Regions from separate parts of the Homo sapiens genome. Here all the other regions are reported to be linked to region 1. Evidence: microRNA targets listed by miRTarBase, many of them from high-throughput screens and not tested one by one. Region 1 holds a microRNA gene; each other region holds the end of a gene's coding sequence.

Region 1 (5,086 bases):
TCTAAGTTATCATTACAACTTCAGCTGCCACCTCCTATGAATTGGCCAACAAATTAGCATAGCAGGGCAGCAAGTCATTGTCTCTCCTGACTTCCTGTCCATCAGTACACCCGAGATGTGTTTGTTATCACCATCACCATCTTAGACAAATCTGGCTCAAGGGTAAGGCTATCTGGAGCATGGTAGGTAGAGATAGGTCTTCTCTGACCGGCCGTGGGCATGGAAAAAATAAAAAAGATTAGCACTTGTCCTCTCGAGAAGTCAGGGCATTTTGATGGAAACTAGGCTCTGTTATGAAGAGACAGCCTAGTCTGCAGAAAAACGGGAGCCTCGCGAGAAGTGTCATCTGGGTGCCACGGGCACTGATGTCTGGAAGCGTCTAGTCACCTCAGGACATCAGTCCCCATAGAGACCTTCTGAACACTGATGCCCTAAGTCATCAAGCAGCTTGCAGGCTTGTGGTTTGCTTTGCTAAGAATAAATAGGGACTGAGAGTACTCAGCCATCTCAAGGTGTCACACAGAACCACATCTTGGTACCTCATGGATTAGGAGTGATAATCATCCTGGGCTCTGTTCTCAGCTCAGCTCTGGCCTCCTGCTAAGCCTAGGGTAGGCTCAACCTCAAGGCTGGAAACCCCCAAGCTAGGCAGCAGCAGTTGTCAAGCATGCTGTTATGGCTGTGAAGGGATTCTGGGTCCTTTATTACTCATAATTGTGTTTCACTTTGAGAAACAAAATTCGAGGCTGAACAACATAGTGAGACCTCATCTCTACTGAAATTTAAAAAAAATTAACTAGTGGCCGGGCGCGGTGGCTAACGCCTGTAATTCCAACACTTTCGGGGGCCAAGGCAGGTGGATCACCTCAGATCAAGAGTTCGAGACCAGCCTGACCAACATGGAGAAACCCCGTCTCTAGTAAAAAGACAAAATTAGCCAGGCATGGTGGCGCATGCCTGTAATCCCAGCTACTCAGGAGGCTGAGGCAGGAGAATCGCTTGAACCCAGGAGGCAGAGGTTGCAGTGAGCTGAGATCTCGCCTTTGCACTCCAGCCTGGGCAACCAGAGCAAAACTCCATCTCAAAAAAGAAAAAATTAACTGGTGCTGTGGCGCACACCTGTAGTCTCAGCTACTTGGTCGGTGGGTGGCCTAAAGTGGGAAGATTACTTGAGCCTGGGAAGTTGAGGCTGCGGTGAACCCTGATCGAGCCACTGCACTACTGCAGGCTGGGTGACAGAGCAACACCCTGTCTCACAAAAAAAAAAAAAGAGAGAGAGAAAGGAAAGGAAAGAAAAAGAAAGTAAATAAAGAGAGAAAGAGAGAAAGAAATAAAAAGGAAGGAAGGAAGGGAGGAGGGAGGGAGGGAATTCCAGTGGAAGGAAGGAAGGAAGGAATGGAGGAAGGGAGGGGAGGGGAGGAGAGGAGAGGAGCAGGGAATTCCAGTGGATTCAGGATTATCCCTATCATAAATCACTCACCACTTACTCCCTTGCATCCTACTGTGCTTTGTTTTTTTTTTGAGACAGGCTCTCACTCTGTCGCCCAGGCTGGAGTACAGTGATGCAATCAATTTCAGCTCACTGTAGCCTCCACCTCCTGGGTTCAACTAATCCTCCTGCCTCAGCCTCCCGAGTAGCTGGGACCACAGGCATGCACCACCATGCCCGGCTAATCCACTATGGGTTTTTTTTGAGTGGGAAAGAGAGGAGTGGCCTCACAGCTAGTGTGCCTGAATTGGCATGCCTGTGAGAGGAGCTTGCATGTGAGTGTTTTGTGTTACATGCGCTGTGATGGGAAAGAGGGTGCTATCAAATATACACAGAGGATTGCTTAGCCTGCCTGCCACCGAACAACTATGTCAAAAGTCCCCAGAGTCTTCACACAAGCCGTGGTGTATGAAGCTGCATCCTCAGGACCTGGGCTTGGGTGGTAGGAGGAATTGGTGCTGGTCTTTCATTTTGGATTTGACTCCAGCCCCACAGCCTCAGCCACCCCAGCCAATTGTCATAGGAGCTGGATTGGAAGAAGCGGAAGAAATCTGTTGCCTGAGTGGAGAAGACTGTACAATGTCCTGTCTCTCACCATGGGGGATTTTTGTGGCAGGAAATGAGAGTAATGAGGTCCCTGCCACCACCTTGAATTATGGGTGGCTCCAGAAAACCTTATTGTAGATTGAGGGGGAAGAGAAGGGAGAGCGAGGTCTTGTTGCATGCTATTTTCAACCCATGCTCTGATATCTCTCAAGGTTGTAGACTTTAATACTAAGAATTGCTATGTTATTTTAAATTTAATGATGTTCTTTGAATGGCTGAAAGCATGGCCAGGACCAGCAAAAAGGCCCAGTTACTTAATTGACTGAGCTCCATTAATTGTCCATTTGTGAGGTCTGGGGTTTGGTTCCCACAAAGGCAATTGACATTTGGGCCCAGTGAGAACACATGGCTGAACAGTAGGGTCATAGGAAGACCCACAGGCACAAGTCCATCCCTTCCTCTGAGACAGCAATGGTATTTCCATTGTTGCCATGTACTTTTACAGGAATCACCAGTGGTTGACTTGAGAGCAAATCAGCCAATGGTCTTGTTCAGTCACCAGCAGGGGCCTGAAATGGGGACTAACATAACTGGGAAACACTGTCCACCCTGGGAGGAAACCAAGCCCAATCAGAATATTATCATTAGATGAGGAATAAAGAGTTCTGACAGTGTGTATTTCACTGGGCTAAGCAGTCACCTAGCCTCCCAAGTATAATGGATGTGGTGAAATAAGAATAAAGTAACTCACGCCAATTGGATTATTAAGTACTTTACAATGTACAAGAAGAATTTAAGTTAGACACAAGTCAGTAAAGGTGGTGCTATGGTTTGATTGTGTCCCCTCCAAAATTCAGGTGTGGCCAGTATGATAGTATTAAGAGGTCGGGGCTGGGTGCAGTGGCTCACACGTGTAATCCCAGCACTTTGGGAGGCCAAGGTGGGCGAATCACAAGGTCAAGAGATCGAGACCATCCTGGCCAACATGGTGAAACCCCGTCTCTACTAAAAATACAAAAAATTACCAGGCGCAGTGGCTCATACCTGTAATCCCAGCTACTTGGGAGGCCGAGGCGGGTGGATCACCTGAGGTCGGGAGTTCGGGACCAGCCTAACCAACATGGAGAAACCCCGTCTCTACTAAAAATGCAAAATTAGCCGGGCATGGTGGCACATGCCTATAATCCCAGCTACTCAGGAGGCTGAGGCAGGAGGATCGCTTGAACCCAGGAGACGGAGGTTGTGGTGAGCTGAGATCACGCCATTGCACTCCAGCCTGGGCACCAAGAGCAAAACTCCATCTCAAAAAAAAAATAGCTGGGCATGGTGCCACACACCTGTAGTCTCAGCTACTCGGGAGGCTGAGGCAGGAGGATCACTTGAACCCGGGACGCGGAGGTTGCAGTGAGCTGAGATCACGTCACTGCACTCCAGCCTGGCGACAGAGTGAGACTCCGTCTCAAAAAAAAAAAAAAAAAAAAAGGTAGGGCCTTTAGGAATTGATTGGGCCTGGCCAGGCGCGGTGGCTCACACCTGTAATCCCAGCACTTTGAGAGACCAAGGCGGGTGGATCACCCAAGGTCAGGAGTTCAAGACCAGCCTGGCCAACATGGCGACATCCTGTCTCTACTAAAAATACAAACATTAGCTGGGCGTGGTGGCAGGCACCTGTAATCCCAGCTACTCAGGAGGCTGAGGCAAGATAATCGCTTGAACCCGGGAGGCGGAGGTTGCAGTGAGCCGAGATCGTGCCATTGCACTCCAGCCTGGGCAACAAGAGCGAAACTCTCATCTTAAAAAAAAAAAAAAAATGTGATTGGGCCATGAGGGCTTCTCCCTTGTTAATGGGATGAAGGCCCTTTTTTTTTGAGATGGAGTCTCGCTCTGTCGGCCAGGCTGCAGTGCAGTGGTGCGATCTTGGCTCGGCTAACCACAACCTCCGCCTCCCAGGTTCAAGCAATTCTCTGCCTCAGCCTCCCGAGTAGCTGGGATTACAGGCGCCCGCCACCACGCCCGGCTAATTTTTGTATTTTTAGTAGAGATGAGGTTTCACCATCTTGGCCAGGCTGGTCTTGAACTCCTGACCTCGTGATCCACCTGCCTTGGCCTCCCAAAGTGCTGGGATTACAGGCGTGAGCCACCACACCTGGCCGAAGACCCTTTTTAAAGAGACATCATGCAGTGTTGGGCTAGCTTGTCCTTCTGCTGTGTGAGGATGCGGCAAGAAGGTCCTCACCAGACCAGAATGCTGGTGCCTTGATCTTGGACCTCCCAGCCTCCAGAACTATGAGGAATAAATTTTTTTTTTTTGAATAAATTTCTATTGTTGATAAATTACTCAGTCTCAGGTAGTTTACTGTAGCAAGACAAAATGCACTAAGACAGATGGTGAATCTAGGAATGGACTCCCAAGGAAGGCTTGCGACTATCTCTTGTTGGAGTTTTCTGACACTGGGAAATCTGATATCCGAGGGCGCCTCATTGGAAGTCTGAGTGAGAGAGTCACACAGACTCTCCTGAGAGGCCTGTTTGTGTTTCAGCAGCAACACTGCCCTGCATCTATCAGAGTCTCTTCCCTGGGTCCACACATAGAAAATGTCACCACTGTCTGTCAGTTTCCTGCAGAGACCTGGGAAAAATAGCAGAAAGCCTGGCCTCAGATTTGGATCCCATTGGTAGGACCTAGAAGTATGGTCCGTGGTGGTGCGGGGGGAGGGTGGGTATCTGCTCTCTGCTCTGCTCGACTCTATTCTGGTTGTCAAAGCCATCTGTCTCTCAAAAGCAGTGGAACAGAGGGCCAGAGCCTGGTCCCCATGATTTCCTGCTTGTCATGGTTTGCTTCCTTCTAGCAGATGCCATGTAGCCAGGAGGCAGAGTGCGGACCACCCTAGGTGGCTGGGAGAGGTTGGCAGCCAAAGCTCGGTGGCCTCGCTGCTGCTTCAGAGGATCTGGGCATGGGGGTTAGGGACCTAGGCAACTCGTTTAACCTCCATGTATCCCAGTTCCCTCAGCTCACGAATGGATCTTTTAATCATTGCCATAGAAGGATGT
Region 2 (5,086 bases), not on the chromosome of region 1:
GACATTCAGGGCCTCTCACCCACCCCAGTTCAGACCACCATGGTTTTGTCCAAACCAGGAGGCTCCTTAGCCTCTCACGTTGCCAGGTTGGAGTCTTCAGACTTGACGCCACCTCATAGTCCCCCACCTTCCAGCCGTCAGCTCCTGGGCCCCAATGCAGCTGCCCTCTCCAGATACCTGGCAGCCTCATATATCAGCCAGAGCCTGGCTCGGCGGCAGGGGCCTGGGGGAGGGGCCCCCGCAGCCTCCCGGGGCTCCTGGTCCTCTGCTCCCACGTCACGGGCATCTTCGCCGCCCCCCCAGCCCCAGCCACCACCTCCCCCAGCCAGGCGGCTCAGCTATGCCACGACGGTTAACATCCACGTGGGCGGGGGTGGGCGGCTGCGGCCAGCCAAGGCCCAGGTCCGGTTGAACCACCCTGCTCTCTTGGCCTCCACACAGGAATCTATGGGCCTTCACAGGGCCCAGGGGGCTCCTGATGCCCCCTTCCACATGTGAGCCAGGACATGAGGCTTCCCTGAAGCAAGGATTTCAGCCAGATGCCATAGACCCTCAGAACTTGACCTGGAAGTCCAGACACTGAACGCAGGCCTCAAAACTGCTGCGGCCTTCCAACTCCTGGTATCTGCATCGGCGAATGGCCCTTCTTGCCTTGATCCACAGGGATGGGGAAGGGAGGAATGTCATTAATGTTTTGTTAATACTGATTCTTTCATGCAATGATGTGTATTTTCCCATTCTGGAGGCTGTGGGAGATGACAAGACAATGAATGGGAAGGTCTGACACAGAACAAATCAGCGGTTCTGAAAGCTTGGGGAATCTCAGACTCCTTTGAGAATTATTGGAAAATGGACCCACTATAACTTGGCGTGTGTGTGAACTGCTTGATGCCCATCCAGGAAAGCCAAGTTAAGAAGCTTTGCTTCAAGTAGACACTAGAAATCCATTCCCTTGGCAATTTATACAGTTCACGTCTCCCACCATCCGTTCATCTCACCCACCCTGCCATCTCTCCACCTATCCATCTGGCTATTGCTCCATCTAGCTTTCCCGCTCCATCTACCCATCTTCCAATCCATCATCTCACGTATCTGCCTTGCTTATCCAACTGTCTGCCTTATTCACCCACCCATCCCTTTATCATTCTAACCCCATCTGGCATTCCATCCCTCCATTTATCCATCTTCCCACTTACCCATCTTCTCCATCCAGCACTCCGTTCATCAGTCCGTCTCTCCCTCCATATTTCCATCTGTCCATTCATCCACTCATTTTGCCATCCATACATATTCACCCAGCCATCTCCCAATCCATCGACATACCCCATCCCTCCCTCACTGGACTCTCCGGGGTCTTAGTACTATGATACTTCAGAGACAATTCCATGCTGATACGGGGGAGATCAATTTTGGGGCTCTGGGATAAGTCTGTCCCACATCTGTCTGATTTCCCTTGGCATCCTTCCCGTCAGTTCCTCTTGAATATCCCAGTTCTTGTACCCACTCACATACCTCAGATCCCTTCACTCCTCCCCGCAGTTTGCAGCCTCTACAATTCATCCACATGCTCCCTCCCCCAGCAAAATAATTCAGGTCGTGGAGACAAAAGGCTTTTATGTTAGGTTCTGTCTGCCCCCTTGTTCCAGCAGTGGTATGCCCAGTGAGAGGCACAATTTAAACGGTTTCTTTGGTGATGATATTAGCTACTTTCATCAAATACTTAGCCTCTTGTGCTTTAGCACATTATTTATGTAAGCTCCCCTAGGATTCTCTGAAGCACCCTGGTGTCCTGGCTGTGAATTCAAGTCCCATCTTTACTTATTTGGTGTGGGTCCTCCCTCTGAGCCGGTTTTCTCATCTACAAAATGAAGACAACAGTACTTCCCTCCTGGGATCATTGAAAGATTTAGGGAGCATATCCTTCCACTTCCCAAACATATTTGAACCTCTGACTTGCTTAGGAGCATCATTCAAATCACAGATCCCCCAGTATCTAGTCCCAACCTATTGAATCAGGATCCCCAGGGAAGGAGGAGCTTGGGAATCTGATTTTTTTTTTTTTTTTTAGATAAAGTCTCACTCTGTCACCCAGGCTTGAGTGCAGTGGCAAAATCTTGGCTCATTGCAACCTCCACCTCCTGGGTTCAAGCAATTCTCATGCCTCAGCTTCCCGACATAGCTGGGATTATAGGCGTGCACCACCATGCCCAGCTAATTTTTCGTTGTTGTTGTTGTTGTTTTGTTTTTGAGACAGAGTCTCGCTCTGTTGCCCAGGCTGGAGTACAGTGGCACGATCTTGGCTCACTGCAAGCTCCGCTTCCCGGGTTCACGCCATTCTCCTGCCTCAGCCTCCCGAGTAGCTGGGACCACAGGTGCCCGCCACCACGCCCGGCTAATTTTTTTGGTATTTTTAGTAGAGACGGGGTTTTACCATGTTAGCCAGGATGGTCTCGATCTCCTGACCTCGTGATCCTCCCGCCTCGGCCTCCCAAAGTGCTGGCATTACAGGCGTGAGCCATCATTCCTGGCTGGGAATCCGAATTTTTTTTTTTTTTTAGACGGAGTTTCGCTCTTGTTGCCCAGGCTGGAGTTCAATAGCATGATCTCGGCTCACTGCAACCTCTGCCTCCCAGGTTCAAGTGATTCTCCTGCCTCTAGCTGGGATTGCAGGCGCCCACGACCACGCCCAGCTAATTTTTGTATTTTGTAGTAGAGACGGGATTTCGCCATATTGGCCAGGCCATAGTGGTCTTGGACTCCTGACCTCAGGTGATCCGCCCACCTCGGCCTCCCAAAGTGTTGGGTTTACAGGCGTGAGCTACCATACCCTGCCCAGGAATCTGAATTTTTAGCAATCAGTTAGCAGCAAATAAGCTGAGATTTCCTGGGTACTAAGCACATACTATGAGCATTACAGCCGCTTTATATAAGCTCGTTCACTGTCCTCATTACATTCCTAATATGCAAGTGAGCATGTTTTTTAATCCTCAGTCTAGAGGTGAGGAAACTGAGGCAGGCACAGAGAGGCTAAGGGATTTGCCTAGTCGCACAGCTAGGAAGGTGCAGCACTGAGACTCGAATCCACACAGCTTGGCTTAAGTCTACCATTAAATTTGCCTGTCCTGGCCAGGTGCGGTGGCTCACGCCTGTAATCCCAACACTTCGTGAGGCCAAGGCAGGTGGATCACTTGAAGTGAGGAGTTCGAGACCACACCAGCCTGGCCAACATGGTGAAATCCCGTCTTTACTAAAAATACAAAAAATTAGCTGGGCGTGGTGGTGGGTGCCGGTAATCCTAGCTACTCAGGAGGCTGAGGCAGGAGAATCACTTGAACCTGGGAGGTGGAGGTTGCAGTGAACCGAGATTGCGCCACTAGACTCCAGCCTGGGAGACGAGCAAAACTGTCTCAAAAAAATAAAATGAAATACATAAATAAATGTGCCTATCCTGTGCCGGGTGCTGTTCTTGCCAGTGGGGATACATGAGAGAACACTGCCTTGCCCGCATGAGGCTTGTGGCCTGGTACTGTGCACACCTCAGGGGATTCTGATAATTAGCTGAGCACAGTTGCCAGCACAGGGCCTGGCTCAATAAATATTAGCTGCTGGCTTCTGCTCACTTACTGTTTATTGACTGGCTACTGTACACCAGGGCCGAGGCTGTGTCCCGGGGGCCCCGTGGTGACGGAGGTGAACTCCTCAGCCTGGAGTGATCCACTCCACTGGAGCCTCCCCAAGGTCAGGACCGCAGCCGACGCTCCCCTCCTCCGCCCCAGCTGCACATTCCCGGCTGAAGGAAAGTTCTCAGCCTGGCCCAGGCTCCCAGCGGCGTCGGAATTCCCGGTATTCGAGGAGGCAGGGAGGGAGAAGGGGCCTGTCTACTCCAAGGCCTGGAGCTGGGAAGGAGAGGCAAGCCCCTTTCCAGTCCAGATGTGTCCCAGCTGTGCCTCTGGGAAAGAGCCAGGAGCCTCAATAAGGGGGTCTCTGGACCCCCTGGGAAAACCATGGGCGCCAGGCTTGCCTCCACCCCTCCTCCTGGCATCTGTGAATTCCATTCCTCCCTCCCGCCCAACTCCTACTGCTGCTTCCCAGCCCCAGCTCTGTCGCCTTCTCAGGAATACCTTTCCTGCTGGCCTACCTTGGTTCTGAGCCCAGTCCTCCTCAGAGCTACAGCTAAATCAGGCTCCGAAAGGATAAGGATGGTGCCTGCTGTCCTCTCTGGGACATTTAGGTTAATGCCAGCTAAACCAGTTAACCGGAGTTAACTCTGGCTGCGATGCAAAACTTGGCGAGCCGCAAAACATTTTGCCACTAGGGTAGTTTTCTCATCCTGTGTCACCAACCTCACAGGGATGTGGCCACCTCCAACAACCACCTACCTGATGCTCCATGAACCCCACTCCTTTACTTTTTCTTTTTTTTTCTTTTTTTGAGGAGGAGTCTTGCTCTGTCGCCCAGAGCTGAAGTGCAGTGGCGCAATGTCAGCTCACTGCAACCTCTACCTCCTGGGTTCAAGCGATTCTCCTGCCTCAGCCTCCAGAGTAGCTGGGACTACAGGCACGTGCCACTATGCTCAGCTAATTTTGTACTTTTAGTAGAGACAGGGTTTCACTGTGTTGGCCAGGCTAGTCTCGAACTCCTGACCTCAAGTGATCTGCCTGCCTCTGCCTCCCAAAGCGCTGGGATTACAAGAACGAGTTGCTGCGCCCGGCCCCCCACTCCTTTACTTTTTATTTTATTTATTTATTTATTTGAGACGGAGTCTCCCTATGTTGCCCAGGCTGGAGTGCAGTGGTGCGATCTTGGCTCACTGCAACCTCTGCCGCTGGAGTTCAGTGGTGCGATCTTGGCTCACTGCAACCTCTGCCGCTGGAGTTCAATGGTGCGATCTTGGCTCACTGCAACCTCTGCCTCTGGGGTTCAAGTGATTCTCCTGCCTCAGCCTCCCAAGTAGCTGGGATTGCAGGCGAGTGCCACCACGCCCAGCTAATTTTTTTGTATTTTTGGTAGAAACAGGGTTTCACCATGTTGGCCAGGCTGGTCTCAAACTCCAGACCTCGTGATCCACCCACCTCGGCCTCCTAAA
Region 3 (5,000 bases), not on the chromosome of region 1:
TTAAGCCACACTCCTACATGAGTACCACTCTCCTAAAGCTTCTTGCAGATCATTTTTAATAAGCAATGCTATTTATAGTAACATGTAATGGGTTATTTTATAGTAACTTAAGATGTTCTTAGTTTTAATTTCTGATATGATAAACATCCATATATAGCCCACATAAAAGATTCCTGGGGTTCTCAATAATTTTTAAGAGTGTAAAAGGGACCTGAGACAAAGTTTGAGAACTGGTTTAAGACTTAAAATTTAATAAACACCTGCCTTTTGCCGTGTAAAAAACCCCAAATCTTTTCCTAAAATCTCTCCCATTATCCCTTAAGTCCTTGTCTTGTTTATTACAATATCTGCAGCATCAGTCAGACAAACGAATACAAAAGACCAGTAAGTGGTGACTGTAATACACTTCTATAGCTAAATCTATAAGCCAAAATATAAGGCAGAGTAGGTAGGATGAGCATCCAACTTGGAAGTTAGTAAGAAATGGTGGCAAAACTTTAAGGTAACTGGCAGAAAAAACCATGTAAGACATTTAAAGGTATATGCAAAAATTGTTCTCTTTAACTAACTATGTCCTCTCATTTTTTTCCCAGAGATTCCTTCAGTCGAATGAGCCTTCGCAAAATGGATCTCTAAACTGAATGCACTTGTTTTATTCATCTGCAAAGAGCCATGTATTCAACATCGAGTGTGAAAAGATCTATTGGAAAACAACATGGAATGGAATTCTGGAAATTATTATTCATTGAAGAATGCAGTGGCCAAGAAAATATCAAATGTAGATTGTTAACGCTTGAGAATCATGGCTATGGTTTCTAATGTTCTGGTAACAAGCTGTTATCTTTTAAGACATTTTAATGACTCAAAGGTACACTATACATTTACCATTATTTATACCATAGCTAAGGTTAAAAATTTATTCACTTTAAGTTCGTATTTTTTAATTTATATTACCATTTATAGATTCATTTTGGAACCATTTTAAATGTAGTAATGCTTATTTTAAAGGTACTATTAAATATGTGAATGTTTACACTAATTTTACCGAGTGGGACTTCAAAATTTTTATTATTGACAATGGCAGAGAACAATTAAAGGGTTGACTCAAGAACTAGTTCCAAACCTAGCAGAATAAAAATCATAGATAGCCCCAAATTAATGAGTTTGGTAACTGTTTCAAAGTTATTTTCCATTTACATACCCAAAACAGGAATTTAGAATTGCAGAACTTTACTTAGTAAAACCTTTGTGTAAAATAATTTAAATACGGGGATAACTAATACCAGTGACAACACCTTAACTTGATTAAATCTTATTACACCAATGATAGTAGTAAGAACTTCATGATTCTTAGCAACTAAAATGAATGATTTCTCTGTTTCAAATTAAAACCAGCCATCAGTTTTTGACGATGTAAACCAGTAAATTAGAATCTACTTAAAGCTATCTTGTAGCACCATGAAGGTAACACAGCTGGAGTTTGAGAAATTACCTATTTTCTGACACTTGTAAAGTTTAGAAGCATATAAAAAGTAAAATTAGGTGCTTTAATTCATCTAAAATTATATGCAAGTCATACAGAAAAAAAATTTGAGAAGTAACATTTTAATTCTTGGCAAGTTTTTCCAAAACGATGCATAGTAATGATTTCCAGAACAGTTTAGAACAATGGTTTTTGGGTAGTAGTGCAGTTTACAGAATGGCATCATTTATAATCCTTTTCTTCTACTGACCAGTTACATGAATCACTTAAGAACTAACCAGATCTGGGTGCGGTGGCTCACATCTGTAATCCCAACACTTTGGGAGGCCGAGGCGGGTGGATCACGAAGTCAGGAGTTCAAGACCAGCCTGGCCAAGATGGTGAAAACCCGTCTCTACTAAAAATACAGAAATTAATTAGCCAGGCACAGTGGCAGGAGCCTGTAATCCCAGCTACTTGGGAGACTGAAGCAGGAGAATCGCTTGAACCCGGGCAGCAGAGGTTGGAGTGAGCAGAGATGGAGCCACTGCAACTCTAGCCTGGGCGACAGAGACTCCGTCTCAAAAAAAAAAAAAAAAAAAAAACTATCATCTGTACACACACGCACACACACATACATACATACACACACATATATATAAAAGAACTGATCAGATTGGCTGGGTGCAGTGGCTCAGGCCTATAATCCCAGCACTCTGGGAGGCAGGGGCAGGCGGATCATGAGGCCAGGAGTTCAAGAACAGCCTGGTCAATATGGTGAAACCCCATCTCTACCAAAAACACAAAAATCAGCCAGGTGTAGTAGCCCGTGCCTGTAATCCGAACTACTTGGGTGGCTGAGGCATGAGAATCACTGGAACCTGGAAAGTGGAGGTTGCAGCGAGCCAAAATGGCGCCACTGCACTTCAGCCTGGGCGACAGAGCAAGACTCTTAAGTCAAAAACAAAAACCAGCACTTTGGGAGGCCGAGGCAGACAGATCACGAGGTCAGGAGATTGAGACCATCCTGGCTAACAGTCAAACCCCGTCTCTACTAAAAATACAAAAAATTAGCCAGGCGAGGGGGCAGGAGCCTGTAGTCCCAGCTACTCGGGAGGCTGAGGCAGGAGAATGGCGTGAACCCGGGAGGCGGAGCTTGCAGTGAGCTGAGATCACGCCACTGCACTCCAGCCTGGGTGACAGAGCTAGACTCCGTTTCAAAAAAAAAAAACAAAAACTGGTCAGATTTAACGTATTGCCTTCATTCTATAGTCAATGTAGTAAATATTCAAAATATACTAAAAAATATCTACTTCTGAGAGCCTAAGTGATGGTTGATATCCCACACTCCATGTACTTTAATGGGCAGTATCATCTCAAATTCCTCTTATCTATATCAATTCAAAGACTGAATCACAAAAACATTTTTCAGATGAGTCTACATTGTTAGACCAAATCTGAGTCAGAAGGGCATAACCTCAAAACTCTATTTGAGGAGCCAAATGAACAATAAGGAAAGGTAAGGAGTCAAGAATGGAAATCCCTCCCCTCCAAAAAAAGTGACATTTTCCCTTCTTCTTTGGGGGTCAGTGGTGGGTATAAACATAAGGGAGAGAATAAGGAACCACTGAAGGGTCACTTCTCATTAGGTTACATTTATATAACAGTTTGGACAAAAATCTCAGAAATCTCAGTAATATCAAGGACTTTATGATTTATATAATTATGCAAAACCAATTATTTTCTGACATCCTTCAGAACAGAGGCTTCCTCTTAAACATTCGTATGATACAAACCTCTTACAAACTTCATTTTTCTTAAAATGGAACTTTCTCACATCAGGAATTTGTGTTAGTTCTTAGAACTGGCTGTCTCTCGAGTATTAAGAGGCCCAGTGTCTATCTTAGACCCATTCCATTCAAAACTTACAGGTAGCGCTCAGGACTGTTTAAGGATTTCCATTAGTGATTCTGAAAGGTGGGGAGAACCATGACTTTATTACCATCTCATCATCCTATGAAAGAATATAAGACATTATGTAACTGTGTTTTTTTTTTTTTGAGACGGAGTCTCACTCTGTTGCCCAGGCTGGAGTGCAGTGGCGCAATCTCGGCTCACTGCAAGCTCCGCCTCCTGGGTTCATGCCATTCTCCTGCCTCCGCCTCCTGAGTAGCTGGGACTACAGATGCCTGCCACCACGCCCGGCTAATTTTTTGTATTTTTAGTAGAGACGGGATTTCATGTGTTAGCCAGGATGATCTCGATCTCCTGACCTCGTGATCCACCAGCCTCAGCCTCCCAATGTGCTGGGATTACAGGCGTGAGCCACCGCGCCCAGCCTACTGCGATTTTTTTTTAATTGAGAAGGTACTCCTTGTTGAAATGGGGTATTAAAGTGTTACCCCAATAGCATTTACATATTTAGAATCATTTCTAGGAAAAACTTAGTACCAAGAATGTCCATTAACAAGTCATGAAATCATTCATCACTTACCACTTCAGTATACTAGTTTAAAATGAAATTTTAACCAAGTTTTTATGTGTGCCCAAAGCATCATCTTAACTTTTCCAGTTTTGGATTCCATTAAATCATGTCTACTTTAAAGGACAATTAGATGCAACAGATTTCATTATAAACCTCTTTTAAGTATGACAGCTTGGCTGGACTAAGCACAATTTCTCCTCTTTGAAAAACTCCTGCACTGTCAGAAAGTATTCAGTAATAAAGGTAATTATGCATGCTTATTCTCTCATATATATACATATATATATACACACACTTATTCGCTTTAAGAAAACTCAGCTGTATTTATAAAAATATACAAGTAAAAAATTCAAATATTCATATACATAGTTAAGCAGTTTAAATTTTATTGACCTCCCAGTTTTTAAAAAAAGTTAAATTTAAGGTCACACCTCTAAGTTTGATGTACTATATACAGATCGTGCAGAATATGAGTTAAACAGATACAAATTAGTCCATGCCCAAAAAGATATACTAGGGTACAGAATCATCTTCATAAATACATATAAAATTCTTGTGTAGAAGCGAACTGTCCAGGTTTTCTGAGACACTTCTAAGTGAATCAAGGCACAAAATGTACATACACCATTGTGAATACACACATTCTAGACTTTGTGCCTCTGACATAGCCCAAGGATTTAGCTTCATGACTCTTATAAAACTAAATGTACTGAATGAGATTCTGCTTCTTGGGTGAAAAACCACAGGAACTATAAACATCATGTAGATAATTACTCCAAAATATGGAGAATACAAATACGAGCACTTTATTTTAAAAAGCAAACACAAAAGACTGGTGTAAATCCAAGTGTTTAAATGCCTCCGTTTTGGATAATTTAATTAAGAACCGATACAAGTTTGTTCCCAGAAGCTAATGCATCACTAGTCTCTACTGAGGAAAATGAGTTCTAAAAATTAACATGGTTTTCAGTAATTCAAATTTCACTATTTATATAAAAACCTAGAGAGACCAATAATATCCAGTAGCTTCAAAAGATAAGCTAAAGATTCTTT
Region 4 (5,086 bases), not on the chromosome of region 1:
CACCTTGAACTTGTTCAAATTCTCCAGCCCAACCCAGTGCCACTGAATCAGAAACTCTGAGGTCCAGCAATCTGTTTGACAGGCCCAGGCACTCTGATGCATGCTAAAGTAAAAGAACCTGTGATTTATCACCTTACAAAGCCCTCTATCAAATATGCAACTTGTAATTCATGTTGTATACATTACTACTGAGTTAGTCACCAATATTTCGTATGATATACAAAAGTCTTAAGACTTGCCAGATTTAAGTGGTGGTGATTCCACTTTGGGAAGTGTAGGGGATGGTAAGATCAATATAGTTTAAAAAATGAGTCTCCATAAGGGAGAATATTGCTAGGTGTGGTAGAGACCAATTTTAATTTTAAAGATATACCTTTGAACTAGTTCAGTTGATTGAAAGTTAATCTGATGTGAGAACTGCTAATACTCAGTATAAAAAGAGCTTGATATTTCTTGAAATTAGGATGATGATATTCTGTCAGTGGTAGCTTGACTGGTTTCCGTGGGGAGACATTTCTGAAGGGAAACTAATTCTTAAGGAATATCTGCTGTGTGCCAAGCATTATTAGAAGCACTGTGCTGTGCTTCTCATAATTCACCTGCTGTGAATAGATTCACCTGCTGTGTCAATCCTCAGAACACTGAGACAGATGTACCCCCATTTCACTTAAAATTGTTGATTTTATGCGTTTCCTCAGAATAATCACTGAAGTTTTAGAGCCAGAAGAAAGCTAGCAACTCAACTTCTGTTATTTTTACAAATGGGGACAGTGAAAGGTTAAGTGATTTGACCATCACATTGCTGGACAGGTGGTTCTCAAACAAATAATGCTTCATTTAAAATATGTATAAAAACTCAGGGTCTGGAATCCTGAGGTTGCCAGATTATCCATTCCTTAACAAATAACTGGCACTGTTTGCAGTAGGGGCAAACAAATTCCTTGGATAGAATTTTAAATATTTACCTCAAATCTCCCCATATAAGAAAAATGTTTAGATATGCCCTCCCTTATTCACACGGCCTAGTATAAGATAAAGCGTATGTACTTGACTTTGCCATATCAGCAATTAGGGCAAGTTTAGACATATAACTTAGCATTTTGTGTAAATCATCAGAAGGCCTTTATTGTCCTATTTGTAGATGTGGAAAAATCTAGAATCCCTTCTGTTTAATTAGTGTATTTCAGTTTGGTTAAATCAAAGTCTTACATGTGGAGTTCATTGGAGTAAACTTTTGAGTCCTTCTAACAATCAGTTTCTTCAACTATGAGGTTAAACATACAAATCATTCTAGCACAGAAGTATCAGTGTGTATACTTTTAAGTGCTGGTGATAAGAACCACTGCATGGATCTGTGGTTGAGGTTTCCACAGCCCAGAAGTGGAAAGTTAGAGTGAACAAAGGGACCATGAACTCGCCATCCTTGAGAAGACTGGCAGAGTTCTACCTTTCTATTGCTGCTGACAAAGGGAGCTGGAATCAGTTTCTTACACCCACACAAATATCCCAGTTCTTTCACAACATCAGATAAAATGCCTAATGCCATTAATATATAGGTTCATCACCAGTAAGAACTGCCCTGCTGTTTGTTATTACATGAGTAACGCTTGTCATGTGTTTTAACCGGGCTCCTTGCAAAGAATCAGTTTTCATTCACCAATTGTTTTGAATCCTGGTGGCAAGCCCAGCTCCCTTTTGTCTGAGATGTCCCCAGTGTGACCTGAGGAACCTGGGCAAAGGCCCAGCGAGAGGGTCTGGAAGCTCTAGACAAATCACCCGAGTTCTCAGACTGCCCAGAAGTCTGTGAGTACAGGAAGAGGGAGACTCTCCTCAGGGATTCCCAAATCTGGCTATCAAAGTCATTGGAGAGCTTTCAAAAAGTCCAAGCTCTGAGGCTACACCCTGAAGGTTACACATTAGTAATTTATTATTAAATTTATCGAGTGCTTACAGCAGACCAGGTCTCTTATAGGTTCTTTATAGAAATTATTGATTCATGGAACCCTCACAGCAATCTTATGTGGTAGGTACCACTGTTTCTCAGATGAAGGAATTGAGGCACAGAAAAGTTCTTGCCTGAGTTTGTGCAGCTAGGGAATGGCAGAGCCAGGATTCTGGCCCTAGAACACACATTCTTAACACTATGTTGCTCTGGGTCAGTTGAGAATGTAACATAGGCGGTCTGCTTCCTCCCATCCACCTCAGGTCTTAGCATAAAGCATATGTCATATAGCAATAAAGCTGTCATTAAAAGGAAAAGCAAATGCCAGTTGTCAGGAGTTAGGGATGGCAGAGGGCAGGGGAGTGGGTTGACTGTAAAGGGGTACTGGAAGGGGGTCTTTGAGGTGCTGGAAAGGTTCTATATTTTCTCTATAGTGTTGGTTACATGAATATACTCATGATAAAATGGCATCACACACATTGTACCAATGTCAGCTGCCTGGTTTGATATTGTACTACCGTTTTGTAAGCGTAGCCACTGGGGAAAATGGGTGAAAGGTACACAGGACTGCTCTGTACTATTTTTGCAACTTCCTGTGAATCTATATTTCAAAATAAAAAGTTAAAAAAGCCTACGCCTACTTTTGGCAAGCCTCATATCCATTAGAAGCCTGCCTCTTTAAGACTGATGTAAATAGAGATTGTTCTTGGAAGACAAACCTCATTCTGCTTAGGGTAAGAAAAGCACTCTCAGCCGGGTGCGGTGGCTCACGCCTTTGTAATCTCAGCACTTTGGGAGGCCGAGGCGGGCGGATCACGAGGTCACAAGATCGGGACCATCCTGGCTAACATGGTGAAATCCCATCTCTACTAAAAATACAAAAAATTAGCCAGGCGTGGTGGCAGGCGCCTGTAGTCCCAGCTACTCGGGAGGCTGAGGCAGGAGAATGGCATGAATCAGGGAGGCAGAGCTTGCAGTGAGCCGAGATTGTGCCACTGCACTCCAGCCTGGGCGACAGAGTGAGATTCCGTCTCAAAAAAAAAAAAAAAAAAAAAAAAAAAAAGAAAAGCACTCTTAGTCTGGGCAGAGCAGGGGCACAGGGTAGTGGTGGTAACAGGAGCTGAGCAAGGTCACCAATAGCAGAGTCAAGCACTCTGCTGACTACATTACACCATGGGGACTGGAACCAGTTCCTTATGTCTTGCAGTGATTCCCAGATGACTAGTGCCCAGCTGTCTAAATGGGAACCCTGGGGAAAGAGCTAAATGAACACAGAATCTGTGCCCCACGCCTGGGAACCCTGGGGAAAGAACCAAATGAACACAGAATCTCTGCCCCACGCCTGGGAACTCTGCCTCAGTAGGTCAAGGACAAGGTCTGTTAGGTTACATTTTAAAAGCTCCCCAGGTGATATGAGCTTGAGAACTTTAGATTACAGAGTAGTGATAAAGCTGAATCTCCAATAACATCACATGAGTCAGCCACCACGGACACTGTAAAACAAGCCCTTGGTTTTCATAGGGTTGGTATGGCTCAGAGAGATAAGGATGATGTTCATGTCATATATGAAAACATCCAAAGTGTAGATACTCTTTCTGAATGCTGGTATAAACAATGAAATATTACAATGAATTGCTTTTTCTTCTGCATCATTCCTATTTGGTTACTTACCAAGTTTCTCCTAGGAGTACATGTAGTTACAAACAAGAACATAATTCTATTACAAATGTCTTAGGCTATCAGGTGTGTTGCTAAATTAAGAATTTTTTGTCCACAAGTAACAAAATTCTCAACCAACAGTAACATAAACAACACAACACAGGGCTCTGTTAGTCTCCTATAATAAGAAGTCCAGAGTAGGTGGTTGCTGGTATTGGTCCCGCAGCTCAAGAGACTGGGGCTGACATCTCTGCAGTACTTGGCCTTTCTTTTTTTTTGAGACAGTCTCTCTCTGTCGCCAGGCTGGAGTGCAGTGGCGGCATCTCGGCTCACTGCAACCTCCGCCTCCCGGGTTCAAGAGATTCTTCTGCCTCAGCTTCCCAAGTAGCTGGGACTACAAGTGCATGCCACCATGCCCAGCTAATTTCTGTAGTTTTAGTAGAGACAGGGTTTCACCATGTTGGCCAGGATGGTCTCAATCTCTTGATCTTGTGATCCACCTGCCTCGGCCTCCCAAGTGCTGGGATTACAGGCGTGAGCTACCACACCTGGCCTCAGCCTTTTCTTTATGGCCACAAGATGACAGCTGTAGCTCCAGCCTCTCCACATTCCAGACTGGATGAAGGGGAAGGGGCAGGACCACTGGCGTTCTATTCCTGTCCCACTGGCCAGAACCATCTCTCATGGCCACCCGTGGCTGCAAAGGAGTCTAGGAAATTGAGTACCACCCTTTCACAGTCTCTATGACAGAGACAGGAAAGGAAGATGGGGAGGGATTGGGTGTAGATGAGGCAACCTACAGTGTCTGCCACGGCTTTCAAATTACAATTTATCAAGTACTTTTTAATTAAATCCACAAACAGCTGATCAGATACAAAGTAATAAATTATCACAGAAAATATTGATATGAAAATCAAGCATAAGGATCTCCACTGTCAGTAATTCTACACATATGTATTGGTCTTTCATTCTGTGTTGGAACTAATTCTAGTTGTTTAAGCACTTCTGTTCCTTCAATCAGTTGCCTACATAGGAGAAAAAAATGGAAAATTTAGTCAGTCATAAGTTTTCATATTTAGCTTAACATTCCGAAATGGGGTCCTACCCAGCTATAGCTAAGACTATTTCCTACAAATTGAATGAACATCAGCTCTAAGTATCCTAAACCTCTCTGGATGTGTGCACTTTACCACACCTGCAGTATCCAGGGCCATCATCCAGGCAGCTGGCCTCCTGCCGCAGCTCTAAGCTGGCTTCCTCCATCTGCTTGGCACCCTCCCCTCTGTTTTTCTCCCTGCAGTCAGGGTGATTTTTTTTTTTTTTGAGACAGGGTCTCACTCTGTTGCCCAGGCTGGAGTGCTGTGGCATGATCTTAGCTCACTACAGCCTTGACCTCCTGGCTTAAGTGATCCTCCTGCCTCAGCCTCCTGAGTAGCCAGTGCTTACCAGGTGTGTGCCACTAGGCCTGGCCAATATTTTTGTTTA
Region 5 (5,086 bases), not on the chromosome of region 1:
CCGCTGTAGCCAGAAGAAGTGGCCCGAGGTGCTGCTGTCCCCTGAGGCTGTAGCCGCCACTACTCCTGTTCCCAGCCTTCTGCCTAACCCGACCAGGGTTCCCAAGGCCGGGGCCAAGGCAGGGCGTCAGGGCGAGATCACCATCTTGTCTGTGGGCAGGTGAGATGGGCACAGATGCAGCAGGGGCAGGTAAAGACGTGACAGCCTGGGGGCCGGGAGGGGGAGGCAGGGCCCCAGCTTGGGCCCTGAGCACCCTGCTCAATGGGAGCCCTGCCCTTATTGGGCCTCTCTGGGCAGTGGAGGCGGCCAGAGAGATCAGGACTTTCCGGTTATGTTGTGTCTCACATGGAGCCCTTGCATCCCTAGGGCAGCATCTTGGCCCCCATGGCACCCGGGCCTCTCAGGCTAAGGCTCTGGTCCATGAACTTGCTGTGTGACCCCGGGCACGTGCTGCCTTCTCTGTGCCCCGGGATCCCCGCTAACGGGGATGATTGCCCCACTCTCCTCACAGGTTCCGCGTGGCTCGAATTCCTGAGCAGCGGACAAGTTCAATGGTGTCTGAGGTGAAGACCATCACGGAGGCTGGGCCCTCGTGGGGTGATCTCCCTGACTCCCCACAGCCTGGCCTCCCCCCTGAGCAGCAGGCCCTGCTAGGAAGTGGCGGAAGCCGTACAAAGTGGCTGAAGCCCCCAGCAGAGAACAAGGCCGAGGTGAGAGTCAAGGAGAAAGGCATCTGTTGGCACCTGGGCCAACCCTGACCGAAGACGGGGCAGGGGTGGAAGTGCAGCGGGCCCTAGGCAGGGGCCACTTTCCTGGAGCCAGAAGCCAGCCCCTGACTCAGCTCTGACCCCTCACCCCTGCCCACCAGGAGAACCGCTATGTGGTCCGGCTAAGTGAGAGCAACCTGGTCATCTGAGGGGCGGTCTAGTCTAAGGACACTGCGGCCCTGCCCTGGGAGGTTCCGAAGGCTTCCTGGAGGAGGTGGAGCTGCAGCTGGGACTGTGAGGACCGAGAAGCAATGGCCCAGCAGACGAGACAGCAAAGACCAAGGCCTGGAGGTGGGAGCGTCTGCCCCAGTGAGGAGGCAGGTGGCCGGCGGGCACTGTGTACAGGAGCAGGCTGAGCCCCGCCCCTGGCCCTGCTGCCATGTTGCTCCCCTGAAGGATGCCCCGACCCCCGTGCCTGCCCTGGCTGGATCCTAGGAGCCCACGGGATTCTCTGTATCATCAGAGGCTGGGCTTGGCAGAGGGGAGGGGCCTGTGCCCGTCACCCCTGGCCCCATTCCTTGGTAATTAGCCACACCCTTGCCTCTGTACAGGGCCCTAGAGCAGATGTGCGTCCCCCTCCTCTTCCAGCAGGTCTATAAAGGGAAGGGGTAGCAGAAAGTCCTGGGCTAGGAGAGTGAGTCCCTGGGTTCTAATCTTGGGCACATCTGTGGCCATCGCTGGGTCCATTTTTCTGACTGTGAAGTAAGGAGAGACGTCTCAGTACCCAGGGCCTCTTCAGCTCTTTGTAGGTTCTGGGCTGGGTTGTGGGGGACTGGGGAGCTGGGCTCTACCATCCCTCCCATTAGTAGCTTTATCCAGCCCCGTTTTTGCTGCTTCCAGGGCCTCTGCCTTCAAGGCCCCCATGGGGCTGTCCATCCATGGCTCTGCCTACGGAAGGGGCTTAATGCATGTGCCTGCCCCTCCCCCAGCTGTTTTTAATGAAACTGAAAAAATAGACTTGATCCCGGCAGGACTGTGATACAGAGCCCTAGCCTGCCCAGCCAGCCCCAAGATCTCAGGAGCTTTAGGGAGAAGACTTGGTGGGGCTGGAGCACACCTTGGGCCTCAGTGGTTTCTGTGTCCCTGTGGTGCCAGTGCTTCTGGGCAGTGCAGGCGGCTGCCAGGCCCAGCCCTGACTTCCACTCTGGCTCAGCAACCTGGTTATTTATGTGGGGCCGTGCAGGCATGGGCCCACTGCCTGTCCATCCTGTTTCTCTTATTTATTGAAACTCACCATTGCCCTATCCTTGTGTCTCCACCCCCTTCCATGTGTTGAATAATAAAAGGTGGGAAAGTGCTGTCACGAGGAGCTCCTTTTCTCTGTGCCCTTCCCAGCTTATCCGCCTGTTCCACTTGTACCTGTCCAGCCCTGCCCTGTGTTGGGCACCGTGACAGGCTGCCCTCCCCTCACAGTTCCTGCACCTCAGCAGCCAGGGAAGCAGGGCCCAGAGGAGACCCATCAACTCATCTGGTTCTCACCAAAGCCCCTAGCTAGAGGCAGGGCTGTCCCACAGAAATAGTGTGAGCCACATATGTGACTTTAAATTTTCTGACAGTCACATTTCAAAAAGTAAAAAGAAGCAGGTGAACTTAATTTTTTTTTAACCCAGTCTATCCAAAATATTTTCATTTCAATATAAAATCAGTATAAAAAGTGTGAATGAGCTGTTTTTGCTTTTGCTTTGAAATCTGGAGTGTATCTTACACATCTTGATTGGAACTCAAATATTTCAAGGGCTCCATAGCCACGTGGCCAGCAGCTACCACACTGGTCAGCGCAGCACCTGAGGAAATGCACTGTGTGGAGCCCGGGAGGTAATTGGGGGTGAGGAAGATGTGCGGGCCAGGGAATGTGTTCCACAGAGAGGGACAGCATGTGCAAAGGCTGAGCACCAACACATAGTGGTCACCTGGGCCTTATGCCCAGGGAGCCTCCAAAGCATTCAGCTCCTGCTTGGCCAGTGTGGAGAGGAAAGGAGCCACAGGAGCGGGTGCTACACCCGGCAAGACAGAGCGTCTCCATCTAAAATTCCTAGGGCAAGCTTCCAACCCGGCCCAAGGGCCGCATGTGGCCCAGGATATGGCTTTGAATGGGGCCTAACACAAATTCATAAACTTTCTTAAAACATTGAGATGTTTTTGCTTTTTTCTTTTCTTTTTAGTTCTTCAGCTATTGTTAGTGTTAATATGCGGCCCAAGAAAATTCTTCCAATGTGGCCCAGAGAAACCAAAAGATTGGACACCCCTGTGCTAGGGTTTGGTAATGGGAAATGGGTCGGGGGCTTAGGGCCAGCTGGGTGGGGCAACAGGAGCAGTCCTGGGGGCACCTGTGACACAGCCATGGAGGATGTCCCATGCCATCCAGATGTGAAGGCCCAGAGCTCTCAGGAGACAGACCTGGAGACAAGAAGACCTACAGGCACTCAGGTGGGTGTTTAGGCCAGGACTGGGCTGGGAGGAAATGTCCTGGGGACGATGCCTGGGCTGCTCCAGGGCACCACAGAGAAGGCACTGCTAGGGAGGCAGGAAAGAAACCAGGGAGGGCAACGTCCGTGGCAGTGTCCTGGCAGCCAGGGGAGGGGTGGGCGCAGGGTGGGCTGCAAGGCCAGGTGCTGCTGGGGGGTGAGGAGGACTGCTCTGTGCCCTGGTGAGTGGCACAGGAACTTGGTGGGATTCGCCTAAAGGGAGAGGGGAGACCAGGGCCAGGGCCAGGTGGATTGAGGGAGACAGCTCCCTGCCGAAGCCTGGCAGGCCATAGCTGGGTGGGGCCTCAGGCTCTGGGGAGAGACAATTTTCAGTTAATTTAGGGTTTTATTGTTTGTTATGTTGTCTAAAGACGGGAGAGAGGGACACATTTAAACTAACGGCCTCAGAGAGAGGCTGAAGAACAAGAGTGACACCTGATGGAACCTGGGGAGGTGTGGAGAGGACCAGCCTGTGGGAGTCCCCGGCCTGTCTGCAGCAGGCACAGGGCAGCTATGGGGCGGCCATGCTGGGGCTGTCGGGAGGCCTGGCTTCACAGGGGGCAGGGGCCTTTCTCCTGAGCAGAAGCCAAGCTGGGGGCCTCCTCCTACCCTGGGCAGATGTGCTTTGGGATTTGACTCTCCTTGGGTACCTAGGGCACAGGTGTCTCTCTCCAGGGCTTTTCAGGTGGGCAGGAAGGGGAGGGACACCTCTGAAGATCCAGGAGATGTTTCACCTGCACCAGAAGAGGGGAAGGAAACAGAGGCTGGACATCAGGAGGGATGTTCTGGAGCAGAAAAGGATGCCAAAGTGTAGGACAGGGTGTCCATTGTAGGGGACTAGCAGGCATCACCAGTGTACCCAAATAAGTATTTCCTGCGGCTGCCAGAGTGTGTTTGGAGTCCCTATTTGCCAGCTGCTCAGCTGCATCTCAGGGTCTGGCCTCTCCACCTTGACTGGCCCTCAGCCTCCTTCCCCAGGGGAAGGCTGGGCTGTGGGGTCTAGATGCCCTCTCCACAGCCTGCCTGTCTCGCCTGGGCAGAGGTACATACACATGCAAGCCAGGGTGCACCAAGGCTGGGTGCAGGCTTCCAGGCCAGGGCTGAGCGCCCCCTCACAGTAAGCACTGTGCTCTCCTCCAGACTCCCCCTCCCCAATTTCTGCTTGCTGAAAGGTGTGGCCCTGGCCTGTTTCTTCACCTGTCCCTTGGGGTATTGAGGCTAGCTTGCAAGAGTGGGATGAAGAGCTGAGGGCTCAAGTAGGAGTGTGTCTGATGCCCTTGGTCTTCAGGGTCCTTACCCTCACCTGGAAGCTTTTCTGGCTTGTTCCATCTAAATCCCTGAAGCTTTGTCAGCGCTTGAGTTCAAGAGGCCCACGCGGAGGTGGGAGCTGGAGGACAGGGTGGGGTTCTGGGCTGACCACTGAGGGGAAGAGTTCTGAGCTTGACCTCTGTGCTCCACCCCTCTTCCCTATGGGCCAGAATGGTAGGGGCTGGGACCCAAGTCTCCACCTCCCCTCCTGCTCCTGGCCCTCAGCTCTGCCACTGTGACCTGGAGCTGAGCCTCCCTCTGGGAGAAAATCCCTTCCTGCACCGGAGAAACTGACTATGGTGACTCAGCCCCAACAATGCCTGTGGCCAGAGGTGCCCCCTCGGACACTGGGGGTGGGTTTCATATTGGATCAAGGACAGGAAGGGAGGCTGGGTGGAGGCACACGGTGAGATTTGGTGAGAGGCATTAGAGAGTAAGGAGGCCTAAAAGTTTTCATTTCAGCTGCAGTGTGAGCCAAGCTACTTGGCCTCTTTTGGCCTGTTTCCTTTCCAGGTGAGGAGGCTGAGTTCTTGGAGGTATAGCTAT
Region 6 (5,086 bases), not on the chromosome of region 1:
TTCCTTTTTTTTTTTTTCCCCACTGAGAAGGGGTCTCGCTATGTTGCCCAGGTTGGTCTCGAACTCCTGGCCTCAAGCGATCCTCCCGCCTCAGCCTCTCAAAGTGCTGGGATTACAGGTGTGAGCCACCATGCCTGGCCTGAGTCCAGCTCTTTAATGCCCGTTCATCTCAGTCCCCTGCCCGCAATCCTGCCTTCTGGCCTCCTCCGTCCCTGATCCCGCCTCTGCCTGCCCAGGGGCTGCCCCTGGCCGAGTCACTGAAGCGACTGATGTCCCTGTCTCCAGGACGGCCTCCTCTCCTACTTTGGGACGCCCACGTGGCAGACCGTGACCATCTTTGTGGCGGGAGTGCTCACCGCCTCACTCACCATCTGGAAGAAGATGGGCTGAGGCCCCCAGCTGCCTTGGACTGTGTTTTTCCTCCATAAATTATGGCATTTTTCTGGGAGGGGTGGGGATTGGGGGACGTGGGCATTTTTCTTACTTTTGTAATTATTGGGGGGTGTGGGGAAGAGTGGTCTTGAGGGGGTAATAAACCTCCTTCGGGACACACTTCGGCATCTGAGTCACTGGGCCTCTGCCCCGCTCCCCGGCACGTCAGGAGAGCAGGCCCTGTCCGCTGCCCCACGCCGGGCCCGCCGTCTGCTGGCCTAGAGATACCTGCTTGGGCCACTCAGGGACGTGGGGCTCTCTGCACTCACTTGACATCTTTTTCTGGGGTGCCCTGTGGGGTCTGTGGGTTAGGGATGAGTTGGTCCTGGGCCTGACCTGCAGGAGCTCACGGGAAAGGAAAAGAAGGGAGCTCACGGGAAAGGAAAAGGGAGCTCACGGGAAACGAGGGTGATAGGTGGTACATCTGTCGCAGCCCAGGATGATCTGTGCGGGACAGAGGCAGCGGCCTGTGAGGCCCAAGCAGGCGTGTGGGTAAGGGAAGAACAGCACGGCCGGCTGCAGAGCAAGCCTCCTCGGCCCGGGGACCACAGCCTGGCGTGTCACACGTGGGACCTCAGGAGGCCATACCTTTACCGAGCTGGAGAATGGGAGTGGGGGGAGGAGGGATGGGAGGACCAGAGGAGCAGGAAGGGCTCTGGAGCCTGGTGGTGAGGTCGCTGGAGGGTGGCAGGCTGAGGACACCAGGGCGAGGGCCCACGGGAGAGGCCTCCTGAGCTGGGCTGAGGACAGAGAGGAAGGGACCTGGCTGGCGACTGAGAGGCTGGAGGGCAGGGCAGAGGAGGAGGAACCTGGTCTGGCCCCACAGCTGGGTGGGGCCCCCCTGGAGAGGAACTGCCGGAAGAAGGTGCTGAGCTCAGAGGCCCAGTGACCTTAGACACAGGCGGAGCGAAGACAAGGGGGCTAGAGGATGTGGGTTCTCAGTCACAGGGTCTCTGGCACCCCCCTCTGGGTCTTTACCCCCTCCCATCTCTGGGTCTCTGTCCCCATGCTCTGGGTCTTTGCTTTCCGAGCCTCTGTTCCCACCCCACCTTTGGCCCTCTTTCTCTGGGCCTCTTTCCACCCCTGGCACCCAGACCTCTGGCCCCCTCTCTCTGGGTCTCTGTCCCCCCCTCTGGATCTCTGGCCCCCCATCTCTCTCTGGGTCTGTCCCCCGACCCTGAGTTTCTGTCTCCCTCTCTCTGGGTCTCTGTCCTCTCTCTGGCTGTCACTCTCTCTTGGGTCTCTGTACCTCCCCTCTCTCTGGGTCTCTTTCCCTCTCCCCGGTCTCTGTCCCCCGCCCCCGGGTCCCTGTCCCCGCCCCCCCAGGTCTCAGTCCTCCCTAGTCTCTGTCCCCTTCTCTCTGAGTCCCTGTCCCCCCTCTCTCTGGGTCTCTGTACCCCCTTCTCTGGATCTCTGTCCCCACCTCTCTCTGGATCTCTGTCCCCCACTCTGGATTTCTGTCCCCTCCCGCCGGGTCCCTCTGGGTCTCTATCCCCCCCACCCCTGGGTCTCTGTACCTCCCTGCCTCTGTCCCCCCCCACCTCTGTCCCCCCCTCTCTCTGGGTCTCTTTTCCCCTCCCTCTGGGTCTCTGCCCTCCTCTCTCTAGGTCTGTCCCCCTCCCCTCTCTCTCAGGGTCTCTGTACCCCTCTGTCTCCGGGTCTGTTTTCCCCTCTCTCTGGGTCTCTGTCCCCCTCTCTCTCAGGGTCTCTGTCTGAGTCTCTTTTTCTCTGGGCCTCTGTCTCCCCACCCCACGTTCTCTATGGTCTTCAGATCCTGTCTCTCTCAGCCCCTCCTCTCCCTCCACCTATGGGCCCCAAGGCCCCTCTCGGCCGACTAAAGGTCTCTGGGCTGAGGTATGACATTTGGTAAATGAGTAACTCGGGCCCCACAGTCAACGGGGTGCTTTGGACGGCTGCCCCTCCTCCATGGACTCTTCCCAGAGACCCCAAGTCAGGGGAGAGAGAGGGGCAGAGGATCAATGAGTGTACACTGAGCCACCACCCAGAGTGAGGGGACAATATGGCCACAGGCAGGATCCCAGAAAAAAAAAAATTATGGGAACCAAAAAGACACGGAGACAAAGCACACAGCCGGCTTCCAACAAGGGGGGACCTTGGGGTAGGGGGCCCGATTTGGGTCTGAGCCAGGTCTAGTTCTGAGGGTCCCACCAAAAAAGTCGGGGAGTGCCAAGGGGATGAGGTCAGCGAGTGGCCCCACCCCCATCCGTCCCCGCGGGGGCCCCTTCCCGCGCTGAGCTCAGCATGACTCAGCAGTCGCTGCCTGCAACAAGGACCCCAGATACCGGCCTGGCGGGGCATCTGCAGATCCCCTCGGTCAGGGGCTGCCCCGCCTGGGCTGTTCGGAGCAGCTCCTCTGTAGGGCAGGGCCTGACCTCACCCCACACCCCAGTGGCTTCAGCTCCCTGCCCAGCGCACGGGCTGCCTCCATCAGGGCACTTAAGTAGAGTCAAGGTTTGCGCCGACTCCGTCTCCCAGAAATCAACGTGGACCAGGCCCACTTAAAAAATATGCATTAGTCGAAGACAGACGTCTCGTCCATAGGTCCCCAGACTGTTTGTCCACAACGCAGGGCTTCTCTTTGTGGGCCTGAAGGAGCACACGTCAGGCAAGACACGAGGGCAACTTCAGAGACACTGTTCAGGGCCACGGAGAATTCTCGAAGTCTGTGAGTTGTCTCCAAAACAGCCTCCAGGAAATGCAATCCCAGAGACACCGCAAAGCTCAAAACAGACTTTTCATTCCTCCCCATTTCCACTCCCAGAAAAAGCCTGGGCCCCTGAAAGAGCTCCAAGGTATCCCCAAAGTCCCAGCCCATCTTTGGAGGGTTCCAGAGGGCTGTCCAGGGTTCCAGAAGTCACCCTACCTCATACAATGCTCCTCCTGGGCTTCCCGCACTGGGTGAAACCCACGGCTCCAGAATAACTGCCCTTTCCAACTTGCAGAGCACCTCAAGAACCTAAAGATTTCCCCGGGGAGGGCTCCAAAATATAGAGAGTTTGCATCGTGAACCCCCACCCCTGTAAATCCCAGGACTCCAGTCCCCGCAACACTCCATCTTCCAGAGATCTCCAGGGGTCCAGAAATAACACCTCACAGCCTTCCAAGCTTCCCAAGGATCCGGAGACTCCTTATCTCGCAGCGCAAACCTCAGGCAACTACAGGTCCTCCCTGCACCTTTGAGGTGCCCCTCCCCCCACTCAAGGTTCCAGAAAAATCCATGCCCTCGGAAACCCCAGAATCTTACTTTCCCGAGGCACCCCAGGACCCCAGGGTCATCAGTTCACAGGGCTGTTAGTGCTCCCATAAAACTCTAGCCTCCCAGAGGGACCCCAGCCCCCACCCTCCCGCCCACGAACCCCTGCATTTCCAGAATCAGCCCCAGGGCCCCAACCCCCCCAAGCCCCCATTTCACAACACGCTGGCGCTACAGGCGCGTGACTTCCCCTTGCTTTGGGGCGGGGGGCTGAGACTCCTATGTGCTCCGGATTGGTCAGGCACGGCCTTCGGCCCCGCCTCCTGCCACCGCAGATTGGCCGCTAGCCCTCCCCGAGCGCCCTGCCTCCGAGGGCCGGCGCACCATAAAAGAAGCCGCCCTAGCCACGTCCCCTCGCAGTTCGGCGGTCCCGCGGGTCTGTCTCTTGCTTCAACAGTGTTTGGACGGAACAGATCCGGGGACTCTCTTCCAGCCTCCGACCGCCCTCCGATTTCCTCTCCGCTTGCAACCTCCGGGACCATCTTCTCGGCCATCTCCTGCTTCTGGGACCTGCCAGCACCGTTTTTGTGGTTAGCTCCTTCTTGCCAACCAACCATGAGCTCCCAGATTCGTCAGAATTATTCCACCGACGTGGAGGCAGCCGTCAACAGCCTGGTCAATTTGTACCTGCAGGCCTCCTACACCTACCTCTCTCTGGTGAGTCCCCAGGACGCCCCTGGCCCTAATTTCCTCCAGCTGCGCACCTCCGGCCCTCACTGCACGCGCCAGCCTTCTTTGTGCGGTCGGGTAAACAGAGGGCGGAGTCCCCTTGGCCTCGCCTCCCGCTAACCATTGTTGCCTCCATCTCTTCCCGTAGGGCTTCTATTTCGACCGCGATGATGTGGCTCTGGAAGGCGTGAGCCACTTCTTCCGCGAATTGGCCGAGGAGAAGCGCGAGGGCTACGAGCGTCTCCTGAAGATGCAAAACCAGCGTGGCGGCCGCGCTCTCTTCCAGGACATCAAGGTAACTAGTGTGTGGGTAATGGACTACATCTCCCAGCAGGCCGTGCGCGCGAGGAGCCTTGATTTGAGGGCGTAGGTGTCGCGTGGGCTTCTGGGAGATTGAGTTCGGTCTTGTGAGCCCTCTTAACCGCTGGAAATAGAGGCGCACCTCGTGCAGTGCCCACAACACGCGGCAGTCCACACCGCTGCGTGGTCTTAGGGACGTATAGCTGTAAGAGCTAGGACAGGGTGCGGAGAGTGATAAATACAAGCTGTCACATGTCTTTGTGGCCTGGGCCTCTGACCCCCAACGACTCTTGGGAAATGTAGGTTTAGTTCTATGTGCCGAGTGTGTGTATTCTGAGCCATTTCTCCCTTCTATATAGAAGCCAGCTGAAGATGAGTGGGGTAAAACCCCAGACGCCATGAAAGCTGCCA

Evidence for each region. Region 1 holds the annotated microRNA hsa-miR-766-3p (ACUCCAGCCCCACAGCCUCAGC, at 1,970-1,991, shown strand). A microRNA usually pairs through its seed, bases 2 to 8, with sites in the 3' UTR of a target mRNA and lowers its output. Matches are read on the target gene's strand: a 7mer-m8 pairs with bases 2 to 8, a 7mer-A1 pairs with bases 2 to 7 and ends in A, and an 8mer does both.
Region 2: the mRNA of PLEKHG2 is a reported target of hsa-miR-766-3p. Seed matches in the 3' UTR shown: 7mer-m8 at 2,275-2,281 and 7mer-m8 at 2,584-2,590.
Region 3: miRTarBase lists DOCK7 as a target of hsa-miR-766-3p. The part of its 3' UTR that is shown has no 7-base or 8-base seed match.
Region 4: miRTarBase lists PPIL6 as a target of hsa-miR-766-3p. Seed matches in the 3' UTR shown: 7mer-m8 at 4,194-4,200 and 7mer-m8 at 2,943-2,949.
Region 5: miRTarBase lists RELT as a target of hsa-miR-766-3p. Seed matches in the 3' UTR shown: 7mer-m8 at 1,813-1,819.
Region 6: miRTarBase lists BAX as a target of hsa-miR-766-3p. The part of its 3' UTR that is shown has no 7-base or 8-base seed match.

What each region holds. Positions count from the first base shown.
Region 1 is chrX:119,643,668-119,648,753 of GRCh38, reverse strand. MIR766 (microRNA 766) reads left to right here and starts at 1,906; the gene lies at 1,906-2,016. All of the region lies in intron 5 of SEPTIN6 (septin 6), which reads left to right. RefSeq lists an enhancer at 673-852.
Region 2 is chr19:39,424,797-39,429,882 of GRCh38, forward strand. It overlaps PLEKHG2 (pleckstrin homology and RhoGEF domain containing G2), which reads left to right. Exons shown (of 19, transcript NM_022835.3): 19 at 1-3,619. The coding sequence ends at 498. Among named protein-coding and RNA genes, the nearest start is that of RPS16, 8.6 kb to the right of the region's middle. RefSeq lists an enhancer at 3,257-3,902 and a silencer at 3,673-3,967.
Region 3 is chr1:62,451,050-62,456,049 of GRCh38, reverse strand. It overlaps DOCK7 (dedicator of cytokinesis 7), which reads left to right. Exons shown (of 50, transcript NM_001367561.1): 50 at 594-1,324. The coding sequence ends at 636. USP1 (ubiquitin specific peptidase 1) reads right to left here. Exons shown (of 9, transcript NM_003368.5): 9 at 4,246-5,000. Among named protein-coding and RNA genes, the nearest start is that of USP1, 17 kb to the right of the region's middle.
Region 4 is chr6:109,388,312-109,393,397 of GRCh38, forward strand. PPIL6 (peptidylprolyl isomerase like 6) reads right to left here. Exons shown (of 8, transcript NM_173672.5): 8 at 1,904-4,626. The coding sequence ends at 4,515. Among named protein-coding and RNA genes, the nearest start is that of CD164, 8.4 kb to the left of the region's middle.
Region 5 is chr11:73,394,576-73,399,661 of GRCh38, forward strand. RELT (RELT TNF receptor) reads left to right here. Exons shown (of 11, transcript NM_152222.2): 9 at 1-159; 10 at 512-710; 11 at 869-2,899. The coding sequence ends at 916. Among named protein-coding and RNA genes, the nearest start is that of RELT, 21 kb to the left of the region's middle.
Region 6 is chr19:48,961,247-48,966,332 of GRCh38, forward strand. It overlaps BAX (BCL2 associated X, apoptosis regulator), which reads left to right. Exons shown (of 6, transcript NM_138761.4): 6 at 286-552. The coding sequence ends at 390. FTL (ferritin light chain) reads left to right here and starts at 4,063. Exons shown (of 4, transcript NM_000146.4): 1 at 4,063-4,363; 2 at 4,524-4,670; 3 at 5,035-5,086. The coding sequence starts at 4,262. RefSeq lists silencers at 953-1,122, 3,893-4,052, cis regulatory regions at 1,002-1,522, 2,462-2,962 and enhancers at 2,644-2,753, 4,303-4,352.